Regions from separate parts of the Homo sapiens genome. Here region 1 is linked to region 2. Evidence: fine-mapped expression QTL. A gene starts in region 2. The other region holds a variant in brackets. All regions are shown on one strand. Distances are from middle to middle.

Evidence for each region.
Region 1: its variant is fine-mapped to the expression of CHRAC1 in whole blood (TOPMed, PIP 0.97).

Annotation. Positions count from the first base shown.
Region 1 is chr8:140,596,984-140,607,575 of GRCh38, forward strand. All of the region lies in intron 1 of AGO2 (argonaute RISC catalytic component 2), which reads right to left. Among named protein-coding and RNA genes, the nearest start is that of ERICD, 32 kb to the right of the region's middle. RefSeq lists enhancers at 1-159, 508-1,010, 740-789, 2,170-2,239, 2,250-2,339. The variant C/T (reference allele first, on the strand shown) is at 4,940.
Region 2 is chr8:140,505,630-140,516,221 of GRCh38, forward strand. CHRAC1 (chromatin accessibility complex subunit 1) reads left to right here and starts at 5,693. Exons shown (of 3, transcript NM_017444.6): 1 at 5,693-6,017; 2 at 8,740-8,866; 3 at 9,497-10,592. The coding sequence starts at 5,871. The coding sequence ends at 9,618. RefSeq lists silencers at 3,038-3,218, 5,396-6,405 and enhancers at 5,086-5,165, 5,176-5,385, 6,446-6,755.

The DNA of each region.
Region 1 (10,592 bases), 91 kb after region 2:
CCCAGAGTGCGTCCCACTGTTCTGCACCGTTGCTGGTGAACATGTTGTTTGAAATAGAAGACTAAAGCCACAAAATGGGTTTTACGTCATGGTTAAAGGGAACTCACAGAGGAACTGTATAGAAGAAAAAAAAACTCAGCAGAAGAGCTGTTTCGTTCATTTATAACCACGCCCCTGCACTGTGTCCCAGCTCTGGCAGGGACGTTCCCTCCCTCTTCACACTTGCTGGGCTGAATCATCTGCAGAGGTGGCAGGAAAACCGCCTCATTTACATACACCCTTTCCGGCAAGCACAGCCAGGGATTCCAATTCCCAGAGCCTCCCAGCCTCTCCAGTGCCAACGCAGCGCAGCACGGATGCAGGGCAGCGTGGGCAGCGGTGGCATAAGGTGCTCACACCCAGCTGGAGTTGAAGTCTGGCTGACATTACTTTCTCTGACTCCGTTTCTGGCAGCAGCCACGGACACCGATGGGGGCTGGGTGGCCCCCCCACCCCCCCCCCCCCGCCCCAGGCCTCCCTGCCTGAGTGAGGGGCCCTTTCCTGGGGGATGGCCTCCTGGCTTCAAGCCTGAATCTTGAGGATGGAAGGAGAAATAAATGAGCATTCAGAAATCTCAGGCTCACTCCTGTCAGCTTCAGCCTCACTCCTGTCAGCTTCAGCCTGATCTACAGGATTAGCTTCTGAGGCCTAATTTTAAGAGAAAAGGAATCAAGAAAAAAAAAAAAGACATCAAAAATGAAAAACTGCCATCTGAGTTCCGTCCCACAGGGTTATAACACATCTTAGCCTTTCTGCCTGTCTTGAAAAGAATAAATGTCTATTTTTATCAGCGAGGCAGCAAAATCCATCAACATCTCCTGCTCATCTGCTGAAACGCACACGCCTGTTCCACTCATCACCGGGCTGTTGCGTCATCTGCCACCTGGGAGGACCAAGAGATGACCCTGCCCACCAGGGGCCTCACAGTAGATGCCAGTGCCAGTGCCAGCAGATGCTTGGCGGGGCCCCATGCTGGGCTGTAGGGCGCACAGCTCTCCTTTCTAGGTGCCAGGTCGAACACTGAGCTTACTATTGTACAAGATCTAACCCAGGAGGGTGAGAAAGGAGGAGATGAGGCAGGACAGCAAGAGGGACTGGGGTCCCACACAGCAGCTCAGCCACTGCCGACCTCGGGGTCAGGAAACAGACACCCACAAGAGCGTCCACGACCCGTATGGGAAGATGTCTGAACCCCGAGACGGCGTGTTCTGTGCTGGAGAACAACTTCCAGGGCTTTATCCAGGTGTTCTAAAGCCACAGCACCAAAAAGAATTCTCTTCGGCAAAGGCAGCAGGACTCAACAGGAAGCAGACGTTTGCGTTCCGTTACTTGAGGAAAACCAAATGCTGCTGACATTTCTACCCAGAGAGAGTTTGCATCTCTCCTGCTTCGCAGCCATCTTTCCTACGGTTTTACCAGGAGAATGCCTAGCTCTTCTCCAACCTGTGCCAGGCCTGACACTCAGCTCCTCTGGGAGTGCCTCCATTTCCCTGTGCGTACAAGCCCACGGTGCCGTAGGATCACCGGTCCACTCTGCGCGGCAGCACCGCACCCCGGAGCCGCAGCTCTTCCTCCCGCTTGCCCGACAGCCCTGGTGCCAAGCCCTGTCTGAGCCCCACCAGGAGGAAGCGCGTGCTGGCTGCTCTCCATCTGCTCTGGGACTCTGGCCTGCTGCTTCCTCTGCCTGCCACTCCCCAACCCCGTTTCCTCCTCTGAAAACTGGAGCTACACCTGCCCCAACAGGGCAGAATTACCTTAAATGGCACAAGACAATTGTACAGCAGACCCACCTCTTCTCCAAAGTTTTCAGGGCCCAAACCCAGACACCTCCTTGCAGGACTCATGGCTACCGTGGGCTCGCACCACCAGCCTCCCCATGCGTTTTCCTGCCTCTGCTTTTGCTCAATCTGCTCAATGACAGAAACGCGACAACAGAGGCCACTTTCTCCAAACCCAGCTCTCCCTCGAGGCTCCCATCCTGCTGCTCACGCTGAGGCCACTCTACCCTGCCCTCCGCAGCTCACAGGCAGACCTGGAGCCCAGTGACTACAGGGTTGGCCTCCTCATCTTGCCACCACTCACAATGCCCAGCAGTGTTAAAATCCGGCAGGATGCACCCGCTTGGGAAGCAGTCCCCAAAGCAGAATCGTCACCACATCTGAATAGTTTCTGCCATCCCACTGACAGGCCAGCATCTAAAAGAGATGTGCGCTGAGCGTCCGTTATGTGGTGGCGTCGCTGTGGTTTCTTAACCAGAACGCAAAATCCTGTGACCAGGATTATCACCGGCTCGTTTCATACATGAGACGGGGGAAGCCAAAGTAACCACTCAGGCCACAGCAGAAAAACGCGTGCTGGAATCTGAAACAAAGTCTGTTGGATTCCAAGGGTTCAACGTCTTTTGTGATGATGAAGACGAAGCCTGCCCAAGAGCAGTCAGAGCTGAAAGAAGAAAAGCAGGAGGGCCTGTGAATGCCCCCAACCCCCTAAAACCTGCAGCTCCAGGTCCGACACTCCCAGGTTTGCGTTTTGAATTTACACTACCTATGGGGTCCAGGCCATCACCTAAGTGAGAAATTTCACACGCTCACCCGGGGTGCTCAAAGCCATCTCTCTAAATGAGGTGCCTGATGTGCAGACAACCCTTATATGATCTACATCTCTTCACCTGTCTGGAAATCAAGACCCTCTCACGATTTTTTTGTTTGTTTTTCCCCGAGACAAGGTTCTCAGTCTGTCCCCAGGCTAGAGTACAGGGGCGCAATCTCGGCTCACTGCAACCTCTGCCTTCCGGGTTCAAGCGATCCTCCTGCCTCGGCCTCCAGAATAGCTGGGATTACAGGCACCCACCATCACACCTGGCTGATTTTTGTATTTTTCGCAGAGATGGGGTTTCACCGTGTTGGCCAAGCTGGTCTTGAAATCCTGACCTCAAGTGATCTGGATCTCTCAGCCTCCCAAAGTGCTGGGATTACAGGCATGAGCCACTGTGCCCTGCCCTCTCATGATTTAAAAGGCAAATGGACACAAAGACACATGCAGACGACGTGACAGCCTCTGTGAAGATGAGACGCCTTGGCAGGCACACTGTTAGAGCCAGAAAGAATCCAGCCAGCTTGCTGAACCACAATGCATTCCTATGTGTGAGCAACGATTAGAAAAGTTATTTTTTACAAAGATGTCATTTACAAACAACAAAAGCTGTAAGGCACAAAAGTGGGACATGTATGAAGTCTACTCGAAAGATGTGTCCTTTAATTACTCCTGCACTTGGCGAGGCCTCTGCTTCCCAGCCTTGTGTTAACTGTGGCCTCTGTTCAGACTCCTGCAGCACACGGAGGAGTCAGCGTCATGGGGTCTACAGATCCAAAACACAGGCCGGGCGCGGTGGCTCACGCCTGTAATCCCAGCATTTTGGGAAGCCGAGGCGGGCAGATCACCTGAGGTCGGGAGTTCGAGACCAGCCTGACCAACATGGAGAAACACCATCTCTACTACAAATACAAAATTAGCCGGGCGTGGTGGCGCATGCCTGTAATCCCAGCTACTTGGGAGGCTGAGGCAGGAGAATTGCTTGAACCTGGGAGGCAGTGGTTGCAGTGAGCCGAGATTGCACCACTGCACTCCAGTCTGGGCAACAAGAGCGAAACTCCGTGTCAAAAAAAAAAAAAAATCCAAAACACGCTCTCTGTTTTCCCATTCGGAGGAGAATTACATCCTTCTGGAAAGAGGCCTCCATGTCTGCTGGCGCCACGTCCGTCCTATGTCCCCTCTCTCTGCTCTGCCTCCTTCAAACCCCAGTGAGTGGGTCACCAAGACCCCGTAGGATTGACGGGGAGGTGGAGGTTGCAGTGAGCCGAGATCACACCACTGCACACCAGCCTGGGCAACAGAGTGAGGCTCCGTCTCAAAAAAAAAAAACCCGAATTCGAATTGTGTCTAAATCTGTCCACTTCACCTCCACCATTTGTGTGCAGGCCACAGCCATCATCTTCTCCCAGCTGGATCACTTCACAGTGCCTACCAGGGCCCCCTGTGTCCACACAGCAGCCAGAGATACCAGGAAGGGCGACTGGGTCATCCCTCCACTCTCAAGTTCCCCAGTGGCATCTCATCTGCACCTGGAGACAGCCAGGTTCCCACGGGTTCCGAGGCTGTCCGGCCACAAGGCACCCAATGCGCTCCTGCCCCAGGGCCTTTGCACTTCCTGTCTACTCTTTCCTCAAATCCCTGCGGTTTGCTCACCCACTCACCTCCTTCAGGTCTTTGTTCAATGTCACCTCCTTAGAGACTGCTGACTGGCTTGTTAAAAACGGTGCATGCCCCCAGCAGCCCCAGCACCCCCCCGCCGCTGTGCTCGCCTCAACAGCGCTTGCCACCTGGCACACTACATCTCCAGTACTCCCTGCACTAGGCACACCCCAAAGAGAAATGTCTCTGTTTCTGCCCCCCTGGTCTACCCCAGGGCTTAGAATCATGCCTGGCAAGTGCTAGGCTGATGGATGTGAACCATATGGTGAATGGTCTCCAGGTAGGTTCTGATTTTCCCTTTGCTCCGCAACCATGGCAGTCTGGGCTGTCTGCCCCAGCCTGGTTGCTTCTTTTTCTGGAGCAACAGAGCATGTGTCTGCCAGCTAGAGTCATCTCTTGGTGTTTGCCTAGAACCTGAACACATCCTCCTATCTACCTTGTATCAGCTCTAGATTACTTATAATACCTAAAACAAACACTATGTAAATAGTTATTATACTGTACTTTAAAATTTTAGAATATTTTTTATTGCTTTTCTCCCCCCAAATATTTTCTACCCCTAGGTTAAGGCACCCTGCTTTGGTGGGTTTACGTGATAGGCAGGTCAGCGGCGGGCCAGCACACAGAAACCTCACAGCCTCCTCCTCCA[C/T]GGTCTTTCCCCTTTGGGTTGAAGATGCCCTGCAGCCTGAATCCCTGAATAGCTGCATGGAGCAGAGCAGCTAAGCCCACACAGCCCTGGAAATTTACATGAAGGAAAAATAAGCTTCTACAGGGCTTGGATTCCTCCAAGAACCACTGCGTTTGCATGTATTTGTTTTAAGAACTTCATCCATCGCAATGAGCACATCCCTCTCTCCCTAGTCACTATGTTTTCCACATGAACACATGAGGGTCCTTATTTTTTAACAGAGTAGAATAGATGTTAAAAATAAATATCATGAAGGGAAAATTTAGCCTCTATTGATGTTATCTCTTCTGTGACATTTTCCTACTGCATATCAAAATATCCCCAGCCTACATAGCTATAAGGTCATGTTGGCAACACTGTCATTATAAAGGGAAAAAACTGTCCTCTCCCCAGTGATATATTTAGAAATCCAGCATTTCGACTCAGCATTTCCTTAGGTATAAGAATACTCCCACATTTATCTTAAATTACAATCACTGTACATTGTGAAAAGAAGTACTGTTCCAATGTTAATAAAACAGTAAACTGTACATCACGGTGGCGTTAGAAAACCGTCAGAACAGACTCCGTGAAATAAGCTTTAGCTTTAAGTAAAATCTCCCTGTAAGCTTCAGCAGGCTTCTGCAGCCCATCCCTGTGGCTCAGGCTAATTCAATTGCATGGAGATTCAACTTTAATTCCCCGCACTTGGAATGAATACAGCTCCCTGAGGGATACTTAAAAGCAAATTTAACAAATGACAGAAATCAGAAAATTTCTCCAATTTGTCCAACCAGCTATTTGAAATGTCAATTCTAAACACTGGCATCCTGGAGAGGTACCATTTTTTTCCTAGTCAGAATAATTAATTAGGAGTAAATTGCTGAAAATCAAGCAGACAAAATATCCAGGAGTGTTTGCTTCTTTGATCAATTTCCTTCCTGAAGAGAGACGAGCTCACAGTTTAAAACAAATCGAAATGGTATTCTACTTCCTCAGAGGACTGAAGAAAAGTTAACGACGATGCCTGCACGCATTTTGGATCACAGGCCGTGCCACGTGCAGTGTTCTGGCCGCATCTTTTATATGACATAATTATGGATTTCTTTCTATTATTTGCTATCCGAAAGGCAGGCCTGCTGCTGGCCCCAACTTCAGAGACCAGCCCAGAATTGGTGGGAGCCTCGGATGGTGCGGGTTGACTCAGGCCCCCACGGCGGCGTGGCGGAGATTAAAGATGGGGTCTAATCTGGCCCTGTGGACCCGGCTCAGCAGACGATGGAATCCCAGATCTCATCGGGAAGTCTGTCAGCCAAAAACACACACCTCAAAGCGGAGTGCGTGGTGCCTCCACACCGGGCTGTGTTTGCGGAGCTGGGATGATAAGTGTGCAAGGGAGGAGGGATCCAGGGCCAGGTTGTTTTCTTCTTGTTAAAATTCAGATAAATTTACCACCGTAGCCATTTTCCAGTGCACACTGAGGTGGCCTTTCGCACATCCACACTGTTGTGTAACCAACACAACCACCCAATTCCTGGGCACCTTCGTCACCCCCAAAAGAAGCCACGTGCCCGCTAAGCCATCACACCCCGTTTCCTCCAAAGCCCAGGCCTTGGCACACGCACCTGCATTCTGTCTCAATGGCTCTGCCTGTTCTAGACATTTCCAGAGGTGGAGCCACGCACGTGACCCTCTGTGCCTGGCCCCCCTCATGTGGCATGCTGTCCTTGAGGCTCATCCGCGCTGCAGCTGTGTCTGAGCTCCACTGGGGCCGGATTTAACAGACTCCCTCAAGAGGGGCTTGCTCCAGCCCCACGCTGCTGTGGCGGACTGGGCTGGGGGCCTCCTTGTGTCTTCACCCTCCACCCTGCAACTGTGCGGCCTCTTCCACAGACTCCACATCAGCCATGTGCCTTGCCTGGCAAATGGCACAGGCATGACTGTTCCGCATCCCTCAGGGCTTGCAAAGGTGCCAGCTGCTTCTGCTGTGCCCTCTGCTGGGACTCCTGCCTCCCGGGGATGAGCTGCCCCTCCCTCAGGGTGAAGGAGCTGCATGGAGTGGTCCCATCATCCAGGCCCATGAAAGGCCCTAGCCAAGGTGGCCGAGAGGCTAAGTTGGCCTCTGACCAGATGTCCCTCTGGGTCATGCAGCCCCAGCAGCCCCGGAGGCTCAGACACAGTACGAAATGCTGCTGTAGGCCACAAGACCTTGAGGCGCACCAGGGAAACGACGCGATGGAGCAGATATATTCTCAAACTCATCAGAATGAGTGCAGCGTGCTGTGTACTGTCGGAAAGTTAGAAGCACCACGCTGGTCTCTGCTCAGTGGCACCTTTCATCTAGCTGGGAGTTCATGTTCAAGAACTTGAAAATTACATAAGCGAAAATGCTTAGGTATGTTGAAATTAACGGCTAATTATGTGTATACAAATACCGATTCAAACACAGCAACAATAAAAAGGCATTTTTGGCTGGGCGCGGTGGCTCACGCCTGTAATCCCAGCACTTTGGGAGGCAGAGATGGGTGGATCATGAGGTCAGGAGTTCAAGACCAGCCTGGCCAACATGGTGAAACCTCATCTCTACTAAAAATACAAAAATTAGGCCGGGTGCGGTGGCTCATGCCTGTCATTCCAGCACTTTGTGAGGCCGAGATGGGTGTATCATGAGGTCAGGAGATAGAGACCATACTGGCCAACACGGTGAAACCCCGTCTCTACTAAAAATACAAAAAAGTTAGCCGGGCGTGGTGGCGGGTGCCTGTAGTCCCAGCTACATGGGGGGCTGAGGCAGGAGAATGGAGTGAACCTGGGAGGTGGAGCTTGCAGTGAGCCGAGGTCGCGCCACTGCACTCCAGCCTGGGCGACAGAGCGAGACTCCATCTCAAAAAAAAAAAAGGCATTTTCAAGACAACTGGGAAAACCCGTGACTGTATTTGGTGCCATCAAGGAATGGCCATTTATCATGGGTCATGGAACTGTGATTCAGTTTTTTAAAAGACTCCTCATCTTTCAGAGACATACACTTAAGTATCTCTGCATAAACGTGCACTATGTGGGATTTGCTTCAAAATATTCAGGTAAGGAAATAAGACTGGCTATGGCGGATACGTTAGACTTTCTTTCCTTTCATACATATTTGAAAAAAAATACAAGTTTTTTTTCTTCTTTTTGAGGTGGGGTCTTCCTCTCTTACTGAAGCTGGAATGCAGTGTACAATCTCAGCTGCCTGCAACTTCCGCCTCCCGGGCTCAAGCAATCTTCCCACCTCAGCCTCCTGAGTAGCTAGGAGCACAGGTGTGCACCACCATGCCCGGCTAATTTTTTTGTATTTTCGGTAGAGACAGGGTTTCACCATGTTGCCCAGGCTGGACTTGAACTCCTGAGCTTAAGCAATCTGCCTGCGTCAGCTTCCCAACGTGCCGCGATTACAGGTGTGAGCCAATGCACCCGCCCTTAAAAGTATTTTCTAAAGCTTAAAAAAAATATCAGCAAATGAAGGAATGACCAAAGTGAAATGGGATAACCCAGCCTGGGCTGAACACAGACGGGGGTGCAGGGCTCTGGGGTAGGGAGGACGCACGGGGATACCAGGCCAGGTGTGTCTGAGGCTGCGCAAGGCCACCACTGCTGTCTTCTAGGGGAGGGTCTGCAGCTCTCGCAGGGGTGCCCAGCGGTAGGTCAGAAGCCATGCTGGGACCCAGCTGATGAAGACCCCACCCGCTGGTCCAGGGGTAGCTCTAGTTCCCAGCCATTGCTCTTGACTATAAACTTGGACAAGAAAAGGAATGATGACAAGTGGCTGATGAAGCTAAATTAAGGGCACTCTGCAGGAAGGGAGGAGAAAGCTACAAACCTGCTCAGAGGCTTCCGAACTGGCCCAGGGGCCAGGTGAGAATGGGACTGTAACAGCTGCTGTGCAGGAAAATTGCCCGGTGGGATGAAGCTTAGCAAATGGACAAGTCAGTTAGTACCTGCAAAATGAAGCACGGTGTCAAAAACCGCTTTATTTTCCGCACTCTGCTCAATATTCCATGCCTTCGAGGCTCCAAATATACTCAACATGACCAGTGCTATCAACAAATTATGCAGACTAAGTTGCTTTTTCGTAATTATAAATCAATCATGCTCACAGTAAAATATTTGCAACTTAGAAAGGTCTACTATAAGTAAGGTAAGATTTTTTCCATAATTAAATATGCCAAGAAATACCACTGAAGTATATCCTTCCAGGGCATCGATGACATTTTAATTTGTCTGAAGAAACCAAGTAGGTTCTGATGCCTAAGGAGGGGACCCAGGGAGATGCCTCCACCCATTTCCAGCGCAGGAAGAACTTGCAGGCAGGAGCATGGAGGCCCCACCTACTGCGAGAGCAAGCGAGGAGCATGCAGTTCACTTAACACTGTTGGCAGTTCTTGGAAACAGCAAGTTTAAGTGACATGATGTTTAACAAATCCATTTTTTTCCTAATCAACATCATAACAAAACAACATTATTCAAGAACCTGATGTACTTTGTTTTGCTTAAAAACGCAGTTTCCAAGAACCTCTCCACAGCATTAAGGACTCACTAAACATTCTCCAAAAGTTGATGCCTTCAGCACAATGTGAAAAGAACAGCCAAACTAAGCCTATACATTCTGACAAAGTTACACACAAAGTTATCATCTTGGCAAGGCTTGGAAGCGTAGCAAATTAAAAATTCTATAATTGGCTGGGCGCGGTGGCTCATGCCTGTAATCCCAACACTTTGGGAGGCCGAGGTGGGCAGATCACCCGAGGTCAGGAGTTGGAGACCAGCCTGACCAACATGGCAAAACCCCGTCTCTACTAAAAATACAAAAATTAGCCGGTCGTGGTGGCGTGTGCCTGTATTCCTAGCTCCTTGGGAGGCTGAGACAGGAGAATTGCTTGAACCTGGGAGACGGAGGTTGTGGTGAGCCGAGATCACACCACTGTACTCCAGCCTGGGTGACAGAGCAAGACTGCCTCAAAATAATAATAATAATAAATTCTATAATTTAAGGCCAGGCATGGTGGCTCACGCCTGTAATCTCAGCACTTTGGGAGGCCGAGGTGGGTGGATCACCTGAGGTCGGGAGTTGGAGACCAGCCTGACCAACATGGAGAAACCCCGTCTCTACTAAAAATACGAAATTAGCTGGGCGTGGTGGTGCATGCTTGTAACCGCAGCTACTCAGGAGGCTGAGGCAGGAGAATCGCTTGAAGCCAGGAGGCGGAGGTTGCAGTGACCCGAGATCATGTCATTGCACTCCAACCTGGGCAACAAGAGTGAAACTCCATTTAAAAAAAAAAAATTCTATAATTTAAAAATGAGCCAGTTGCAATGGTGTCCACATGAAGTCCCAGCTACTCAGGAGGCTGAGGCAGGAGGACTGCCTGAATCCAAGAATTTGAGGCTGTAGTGTGCTATGACTGTACCTGTGAATAGCTTCTGCACTCCAGCTGGGCAACCTAGTGAGACCCCGTCTCACCCCCACCTCTTAAAGAAAAATTATATATATATATATATATATATATATATATATATATATATATATATATATATATATACACACACACACACGTATGGAAAAAAACAAATGTCACTGACGAATGGATAAAAATGTGTT
Region 2 (10,592 bases):
GGTTGGGGGGCCTGGCAGCTAGAGAAAGGGGTAGGAGGAAGCAATCTGGGCCAAGGGGAGAGGCTGGTGGGAGCCGCATTGTGCAGAGCCTTGTGGTCCAGCATGGTGGACCCATCCCACAGGATGATGGAGTGGGAAGTCATTGGAGAGTTTTCAACAGGAGAACGGCAAGAGTTGATATATGATTTTAAAATGTTTTTATCATGGTAAAATATAAACATTACGATTAACATATACATTAACATATATATTAACATTATTGTTAATGAATGTTAATTTTATTATTTTGAGACAGGGTCTTGCTCTGTCACCCACACTGGGGTGCAGTGGCACAATCACAGCTCACTGCAGCCTCTACATGTTGTACTCAAGCAATCCTCCCACCTCAGCCTTCAAAGTAGCTAGGACCACAAATATACACCACCACACTGGGCTTTTTGTTTGTTTAAGACAGAGTCTTGCTTTGTTGCCCAGGCTGGAGTGTAGTGGCACAATCTCAGGTCACTGCAACCTCTGTCTCCTGGGTTCAAGCAATTCTCCTGCCTCAGCCTCCTCAGTAGCTGGTATTACAGGCGCCCACTACCATGCCCGGCTAATTTTTTAATGTTTTTAGTAGAGACGGGGTTTCACCATGTTGACCAGGCTGGTCTTGAACTCCTGACCTCAGGTGATCCACCCGCCTCGGCCTTCCAAAGTGCTGGGATTAAAGGCGTGAGCCACCGCGTCCGGCCCTTTTTTTTTTTTTTGAGATGGAGTCTCGCTCTGTCACCCAGGCTGGAGTGCAGTGGTGCAATCTCGGCTCAATGCCACCTAAACCTCCCGGGTTCAAGTGATTCTCCTGCTTCAGCCTCCCGAGTAGCTGGGATTACAGGCGTATGCCACCATACCTGGCTTTTTTTGTATTTTTAGTAGAGATGGGATTTCACCATCATGGCCAGTCTGCTCTCGAACCCCTGACCTCAAATTATCCACCTGCCTCGGCCTCTCAAAGTGCCAGAATTACAAGCGTGTGTCACCACGATTGGCCCTAAAGCAAAAAATTTTTTTTGAGATGGAGTATCCCTCTGTTGCCCAGGCTGGAGTGCAATAGCGTGATCTCGGCTCATCTCAACCTCTGCCTCCTGGATTCAAGCGATTCTCCTGCCTCAGCCTCCCAAATAGCTGGGATTACAGGCTTGTGCCACCACGCCCAGCTAATTTTTATATTTTTAGTAGAGACGGGGTTTCACCATATTGGCTAGGCCGATCTCAAATTCCTGCTCTCATGATCTGCCCACCTTGGCCTCCCAACGTGCTGGGATTATAGGTGTGAGCCACCGCGCCCTGCCTAAAGCAAAATTTTTAAAGGAAAGACTGAGGCTACATCTCTGCTATCTGCCAACCAGATACAGGGATTATGCAAATTTCTTCAAGGAACACAAATCAAGTGGAGGGAGTAGCTGGGATTACATGTTGGCCAGGCTGGTCTCAAACTCCTGACCTCAAGTGATCCGCCTGCCTCAGACTCCCAAAGTGTTGGGATTACAGGCGTGAGCCACGGCGCATGGTCAAGAATTGTTTTCAAGGACATTGTTAGAGCTGGAGGCGCATGACTGAGAAGGAGGCACGTCACTGAGAAGGGCGAGGTGCTATGGAGCAAAAGGGAGGAGACGCTACCTCGAGATCAGGAAGCTGGGACTGCCCCTGGCCTGGAGCCCAGGAGCCCACACTCGCCCCCGAAGGACTCCAGGGCTGCCACTGTTGAGCAGAAACTTAGAGTGAAGCCGCTCAAAGCTCCACATGTGCAGGTGGTGATCCCTATAACCCCACTGCAGTCCTCTACCCTGCAGCCAGCAGGCAGATAAAGCTTCTTCCTCCCACCCCACAGCGATCTTTCACAGGGGCCTCCAATTTGCAGAACCTACCCAGAAGCCAGCTGACAGGGCATTCTGGGAAGTGCAGAAAACTGCCTTGCACCACCCTGGGATACCCATGAGAATGGTGCAAGGTACTGTCGTGAAGACAAAGTGAGCCCCTAAAAAACAGAGCTAACGACAGGATGAGACTAACTCACTGAGCTTTTTCCAGAGCCAGGAAGTTCTCAAGGACAACAGTCTTGAATTCTGCCGTCTTAGGTTTAAAGCTTCTTTTTTTTACATTTTTTTTCTCTTTGTAGAGATGTGGGTCTTGTTATATTGCCCAGGCTGGTCTCAAACTCCTGGCTTCACGTATTTCTCCTGCCTCAGCCTCCAAGTGATGGGATTACAGCTGTGAACCACACTGGATTTTTTTTTTTTTTTTTTTTAATGGTGAGCACTTCTTTTCCAGTATGAAGATTTCCTGCTTGGCTTCTCTCTCTACTTCTCAAATGATTAATGACTGCAAACATCACCTGCCAATTCTACAAGCTGAGCTTCTCATCCCTATTCTCTCTCCTTTCCCTCCCTCCCTTCCTTCTTTCCTTCCTTCCTCTTCTGTGCTCTTCCCTAATGTTAACCCATCCTGTTCTCACACATACTCAAAAGAGAAAGACAAGCCATACAAAAATAATAGCCAGCTAGGGAAACAAAACATCTAACAGCTTCAAAATATGTCATCACTATGGCTTGTTTCCTGTGTGGACCAAAGGACCCTCTTGTGTAGCTGCTCTTGTGTAGCAGTTCCCTGCCCCTCTTTTGTGAATGTCAACGGCTTTCCCATTTACAGAGGCAAGGCCGAGAGGGAGAGGGAGTCTGCAGCTCCACCTCCAGCCTGTGCAAACTGCCAGGAGTCGGCTCTGCATAAGGCACAGTGCCATTTGGTCATCACTCAAGAACCAGTGTGAGCTTTTAAAGTGGATCTGCTCCCTTCAAAACTTTTTTTTTTTGAGAGTCTTGCTCTGTTGCCCAGGCTGGAGTGCAGTGGTGTGATCTGTGCTCACTGCAACCTCCACCTTCTGAGTTCAAGTGATTCTCCTGCCTCAGCCGCCAATGCAGCTGAGATTACAGGTGCTTACCACCATGCCCAGCCAATTTTTCTATTTTTAGTAGAGAGGGGGTTTTGCCATGTTAGCCAGGCTGGTCTGGATTTGTTTGTTTTTGAGATGGAGTTTCTCTCTTGTTGCCCAGGCTGGAGTGCAAGTGGCGTGATCTTGGCTCACTGCAACCTCCGCCTCCCGGGTTCAAGCGATTCTCCTGCCTCAGCCTCCTAAGTAGCTGGGATTACAGGCGCGTGCCACCATGCCCGGCTAATTTTTTGTATTTTTAGTAGAGACGGGGTTTCGCCATGTTGGTCAGGCTGGTCTCGAACTCCTGACCTCAGGAGATCTGCCCCCCCTCGGCCTCCCAAAGTGCTGGGATTACAGGTGTGAGCCACCGCGCCCGGCCAAAAATAAAATTTTTGTAGAGATGCTGCCCTGTTATGCTGCCCGGGCTAATCTCAAACTCCTGGGCTCAAGCGATCTGCCTGCTTCAGCCTCCCAAAGTGCTGGGATTACAGGCATGCACCACCTCGAGTTCAAAATTCTTCATTATTTTCCATTACTCTTGGAATGAAAGTCAAACTTTTTACCCAGGGCCAGAGCCGGTCCCACCTACCTTGGTAACCACACCTCCCGTGCTCTCTGCCTCCCTCACTAAGCTCCAGACACACTGGCTTTTCAGTTCCTCAAACTGCCCAGGCATTTTCCTCGTCAGGTGTTCTCCCTAGAGCCTGACTTGTCCCGAAAGCTCATCTTGTCTCAGTCTTTCTGTATGAGTGGCTCCTTTTCTTTCTTCAGATCTGGGCACAAATGTCACTTCCCAGAGGGGCTGCCCTATCACTCGCACATGGTTTTGTTTCCTTCGTAGCTTTCAGCATTGGAGGTGTATTTTTTTTTTTTTTTTTTTTTTGAGATGGAGTCTCCCTCTGTCGCCCAGGCTGCTGGAGTGCAGTGGCGCGATCCCGGATCACTGTAACCTCTGCCTCCTGGGTTCCAGCGATTCTCCTGCCTCAGCCTCCCGAGTAGCTGGCATTACAGGTGCCCACCACCACGCCCAGCTAATTTTAATAATTTCAGTAGAGATGGGGTTTGACTATATTGGTTGGGCTGGTCTCGAACTCTTGACCTCAGGTGATCCACCCACCTTGGCCTCCCAAAGTGCTGGGATTACAGGCGTGAGCCAAAGCGCCCGGCTGGAGGTATTCTTACTTATTTTTCAGTCTCCCTCAGACCTGAAGGTCAGCTCTAAGAGGGCAGGGACCATGGCAGCCCTGCTCACTGGCTGTACCCTTGTGCCTAGCAATGCCTGACATGTATTTCTGTGCTCAATTATTTGCGCCAGGACCTCACGTCACAGTGGTGAAGAAGACACTACACTTAACACGCTCCAATTCAAACCTCTGCCAAAATGTGCTCCCTGTCTCAGTAAAGGGCTCTTTACCAAGGCCTTTCTGATATCTCAGTAAGCTGTGCTGATACTCCACAGCAGCTCCCTCTTGAAATCAGACCCCAAACCCTACCACTTCCCATGATCCTGGCAGAAGTTAAGTTGGTGGCCAGGCGCGGTGGCTTACGCCTGTAATCGCAGCACTCTGGTAGGCCGAGGCGGGCGGATCACGAGGTCAGGAGATCGAGACCATCCTGGCCAACATGGTGAAAACCCGTCTCTACTAAAAATACAAAAAATTAGCTGGGTGGCGCGTGCCTATAATCCCAGCTACTCAGGAGGCTGAGGCAGGAGAATTGCTTGAATCGGGGTGTTGGAGGTTGCAGTGAGCCGAGATCGCACTGCACTCCAGCCTGGCGACAGAGCGAGACTCTGTGTCAAAAAAAAAAAAAAAAAAAAAAGTTAAGTTGGACCCCTTACTCTTCCAAGGGCCTCCCCACTCATTCAGAGCGAATTCTGCGGTCTCCGCGGCCTTCCCTGGTCTGGCCCCTGACCATCTCCTGCCTCTCTCCTCCCAGCTGCTGTCCCCTTGGTACTGCCGGCCTCCTGAGGGCCACGTTCCTGGGTTCTCGTAATCATCTTCTACCTGGTCTCTGTGATTCCGGCCTTACGCGCACCCACGCCCTCCCAGCCGGCAGCTGCAGGGATCCTTTTAAAACTGCCCGGGACTCCACTGCTCAAACCCTACCACCACTTCCCATTTTCCTTAGAAAAAAAAATCCAACAGGACCTAGCCCCGGGCTGCCTGTCAGACCTCGGCGAGCACGCCAGGCTCTGCACACCGTCTCTCGGAGCAGTCCCGAAGAGGCCGTTCCCACCAGACTCCGGGACCTCCTCAGGGCAGCTCTTCGTCCTCCACCCCGCAGGAAGGCTCTTCTCCCAATCACCCCGCGGCGCAGCAAGCCTGGCCCCGCCGCATCGCCCGCGCTGGACTCTGCTCTTCCACCGGTCGCCTGGCTACCGGCGCAGGACGCATCCGCTGTCCGCTTGGTCGTCCCCCCTGGACTTTGTGCTTCAAGAAAGCGTCACTTTTTGCCGACGGCGGCACGCCCGGTCCTAGTACAGCGCAGGCGCTTAACACACAGCACCCAGCCACGAGGCCCGGAGTCAGAGGGCTTTGCTTGCCCATTCACAGAGCCCTCACCCGCGGATCAAAGTCGTATTCCGCGACCGCAGCCCGGAGACTCCCGGGAGCGGCGCGGTGCGCCCCGCCCCCGCCAGGCTCTCGGCTGCCGGTTCCGCGCCGGGCCTCGCACTCGGGGGCGGTGTCCGAGCGTCGGCGCATGCGCAGATCGGGGGCGCGAGGCCTCACGGAGCTCGTAGTTTCCCGGACGGGCCGCTCCCGGCCTCGCGGCCTCGCCTCCCCACACTACAACTCCCACGGGGCAGCGGGCGCGGCTCCCCGTACCCACCAGCTGGCCGGGCAGGGCAGCCACTTCGCGGTCGGGCCCGCCGGCTGCGGGCACCCGCGCGACGGGCGGGAAGATGGCGGACGTGGTCGTGGGTAAAGACAAGGGCGGGGAGCAGCGGCTCATCTCGCTGCCTCTATCCCGCATCCGGGTCATCATGAAGAGCTCCCCCGAGGTGTCCAGCATCAACCAGGAGGCGTTGGTGCTCACGGCCAAGGCCACGGTGAGGGGGCAGGGCGGGGGTGTGGGCCGCCCTTACCCCTCGCGCCCCGCCCCGCCGGGCTCTGGGCACTGCCCAGTCCCCTTAGGCCCGCGCGCCGCCGGCTGCTCTTGCCGGGCTCGCGCGCGCCCCGCTGTCCCCGTCCCACGCCGGCGCGCGCTTCGGTGCCCGCGCGCCCCCACACTTTCTCGCGCGTCTTCGCCCCGCCCACCCCTCGCCGCTCCCTCACGTTCTCCAGTTTCTTCGCCTCGCCTACCGCGCGCCTCTCCCGCCCTTTGTCGCCTTCCTTCGCTCCGCCCGCCCCTTCCTTCCGTGCGCACCTTCGCCCCGCCCACCCCACTGTCCTCCCGCCGTTTCTCTCGCGCTTCCATTCGGCAAACCCGTAAGCTCCCGCGTTCCTCTGCGCGCCTTTCGTCCCTCCCACCTGTGCGCTCACGTCCTCCCTCGCGTGCGGCGCTCAGTTTCCGGCCCTACCCGTGGGCGTCGGCGCCTAGTGGCGCTCTTCTCATTTGGGTTCTTTGGGGGCTCTTTCACCCGCGACTCCCTACTCCCGGCCTGCCTTTTTCTTGTCACTGGACTGCTTCGTGCTTTGAGGGCCCTAACTCCTCCAGTGTCCCGTGGGAGGGGCAGCCGGGCGCTTCACCCGCGACTCGAGGCTCTTTTCCCGCGCGTGCGGTGCCAGCTCCAGCGGTCCGAGGCTTTCGAGCCCTCCCGCCCGCCACAGCTGGGGCCCCTCGTCTAAGAGGCAGCACATTCCCCAACCAGAATTTAAGGAAGTCCGGGGAACTTAAGTTTTACAGCCTGCTTAGCATCCTCCTGGGTGCAAAATAGATAATTTTGTCTTTTTTTAAAAAAATTGCGTCTCGATAGTGTTAGGCCAGATGTTTTCCTGTTCTGACACTGGGCCATGTTTCAGCTACACAGTTAAATGCTTTAGCTTGTCTTGGATTCTATTTTCCAGTCCCTACTTGTAGTTAAGTATATGATGTCCCTGCAGTGTTGGACTAGAACTAAGGGAAGTGGGAAATTACAGGTTTCTTGCCCGCTTTATGTCAGAGCCATGTTTTCCTAGAGCCCAGGGAAATAATTGCATATTCAGCATTTCATCTGGGGACATTTGTATTTTCCTATACAATTTCATTCTATTGGTATTAAGGAATGAGGATTTATGCAGGCACTTCTGACCCGTTATTTTATTTTTTGAGATGGAGTTTCCCAGGCTGGAGTGCGGTGGCACTGTCTTGCTCACTGCAACCTCTGCCTCGCGGGTTCAGATGATTCTCCTGCCTCAGCCTCCTGAGTAGCTGGGATTACAGGTGCCTGCCATCACACTCGGCTAATTTTTGTATTTTTTGGTAGAGACAGGGTTTCACCATGTTGCCCAAGTTGGTCTTGAACTCCTGACCTCAGGTGATCCGTCTGCCTCAGCCTCCCAAAGTGCTGGGATTACAGGCGTGAACCATCACGCCCGTCTTTCTCATCCCTTATTAACTGAACTAGATGCATTAAAGTCAAAACCTTGAGAAAGAGGCTCAGTTCAGCCTCTGTAAAAATGAAGACTTGGCCCTGCTATAAGAACTGGGATGCAGGAGGGAGAAGATCAGTTCCGGTTGTTTCATTAGGTCTGAGGGTTGTATGTCAGTTCCTAGAATAGAAAAGTTTTGGCAAAATGTAAGCTGTGGTCACTATAGTTGTAGGTGAACCACCTTAGAAACAGTGTATGCAAATAGAAGACTAAAAAGGTATTCCTGAGCCAAATAGAATTTTTGAATGGCTTTTTGCTACTTTCTATTTTTTTTTCTTTTTTTTTGAGACGGAGTCTCGCTCTGTCGCCCAGGCTGGAGTGCAGTGGCGCGATCTCGGCTCACTGCAAGCTCCGCCTCCCGGGCTTACGCCATTCTCCTGCCTCAGCCTCCCGAGTAGCTGGGACTACAGCCGCCACCATGCCCGGCTAATTTTGTTTTTTTTTTTTATTTTATTTTTAGTAGAGACGGGGTTTCACCGTGTTAGCCAGGATGGTCTCGATCTCCTGACCATCCTTGGTCCGCCGTCCTTGGCCTCCCAAAGTGCTGGGATTACAGGCCTGAGCCACAGCTCCCGGCCGCTTCTTTCTTTTACTCTAGAGGTTGGTCATTAAACAGTTACGATTCATCTTTTTCGTAAGTTAGACATCTAAAATAAGCCTCTGGAAAATGCCTGCTTCTCCGCCAATTTTGATACTGGCTTTGCTTTCTTTCTGACCTCATGTTTTTCTTTTCCCCAGTGATTTCTTTTTTTTTTTTTTTTTTTTTTTTTGAGACGGAGTCTTGCTTGATCACCCAGGCCAGAGTGCTGCAATCTCCAACCTCCACCTCCCAGGTTCAGGCGATTCGCCTGCCTCAGCCTCCCGCTGGCTGGGATTACAGGCACCCGCCACCATGCCCAGCTAATTTTTGTATTTTTAATAGAGATGGGGTTTCACTATGTTGGCCAGTCTGGTCTCAAACTCCTGACCTCAAGTGAGCCGCCTGCCTCAGCCTCCCAAAGTGTTAGTATTACCAGCGTGAGCCACCACGCCTGGCCTCCCCAGTGATTTCTTGTAATTTAATTTGAGAAACCAAGAGAATCTGAAGTCTTAATATACTTTTAAGCCTAATTAAGGAATCAACAATGTAATTTTAAAAATTAATTTCTGTGGTACATTTTCAAAGCACACCTTTCATTTGCATTTTTCATTTTGTTCTAGGAGCTCTTTGTTCAATGCCTAGCCACCTATTCCTACAGACACGGCAGTGGAAAGGAAAAGAAAGTACTGACTTACAGTGATTTAGCAAACACTGCACAGCAATCAGAAACTTTTCAGTTTCTTGCAGGTACTTAGTCTTTGAAACATTCTGGTTAAAAAATGATTAGTAATCAATAGCTCTTTCCCCACCCCTTGCCTCCCTTCTGCTCTCACGGAAAATTAGACTTTTTGCTACTTTTTCCAAGCCGCAAAGTACTATGAGTTGTCACAGGAAGATACTTTTAGTCTTCTCTGTTTGAATGTGTTTGTCATGTGGTCCACCTAGAACAATAGTGAAGCCAACAACATTCACAAGATGTTGGTTGGCCGCGTATGCTGGGCAGTCCTTTACTCTCTACAGGGACCCTGCCTGCCACTGAAGGGAAAACTCAGGGTGGGTCTACATGGCCGTAGTTAGAGCTTAAGTCTACCCTGGGGCTAGCCTAGGCTATCTCAGGTAGTCGGGCAGGGTTGCTCATAAAAGCAGCTCATAGAGACACCATGGTTTGTACTCATTGGACTGGAAAGAGGCCTATAGCGTTCGTTAGGAGACAATGCTAGTTTCTTTGATATTTTACCCAGAAATGCAGCCTGAATTTCATCTTGTTTTGGAACCTCTTATAGAGGTCAAAGCAGGAACTAGTACATTTTGAAATGTGCATTGCTGTGTTCATAGTCTACCATAACCAATTGCTGATGTACGCTTTATGTTTTTAAGATATATTACCAAAGAAGATTTTAGCTAGTAAATACCTGAAAATGCTTAAAGAGGAAAAGAGGGAAGAAGATGAGGAGAATGACAATGATAATGAAAGTGACCATGATGAAGCTGACTCCTAAACCAAAAGTGCTTTAAAAACCAGCCTGGCGAGGACAGCCCTGGACCCACTCCACTGTCTCTAAGTAAACACAGCACTGCCCGCTTTTAGCGTCTTCACTTCTTCACAGAGTTCCAGTGTGTGGTATTCTTTCGAGGTATTCTTTCCAGGCCGAGATTGAGCACCTCATGTACCTACGCCACAGACAGCCAGAGGGAAAGCGACCCAGACAGCAGCCCCTCCTCGACAGGCCCACCCTGCAGCTCAGGCACCAAGAAAACAGCCGATACTGGCAGCCATTGCAGCTCCAAACTGCAGAGGCAAGGCCAATTTTAACTTTTCAATTTACAGTCGATTTTGAAGAGCTTCTACATATCGGTTATGTAAATTCATATATGTATATTTTGGAATCAGTTCTTATAAACAGCTCGATTCAGTTTTAGCTAAATTTATAGTTTAGGTAGTATGTTACATTTGAATTTTTGTCTTAAGAAAAGTTGACTGTTCAGATATTTTTCTACTGTAAAGAAATATACTTTTCTATTAAAGATCTGTACATATTTTTACAGTAAAATGCTTTATGGAACTAGTTTTAGAGCCCTCTATGGCTTTAAGGCCTTGCTTACTGCCTGCAAATTTTGAGAAATTTAAAAATAAGCATTCTAACACTTTTATTCCCACAGAAAAATTCCAAGTCAAATTATCAAATCAAATACAAAAATAAGTCTTACCTCTTGTATAAGCATGTTGTACTAAAAAAAAATTTTGAAACATTTTGTATATTGGAGATCTCTCTCATCTTACTGTTCTTTGCTTTAAATTCCTGGCACTTCTTTTTACTGTCTATAAGAGAAAACCTATCATAAGCCCAATTTTTTTTTTCCACTTAGGGTAAATGTTTGGCTCCTCTCATTTCATTATCTTTTTTTTTTTTTTTTTAAAGACAGATTCTCACTCAGTTGCCCAGGCTGGATTGCGGTGGCGCTGTCTCAGCTC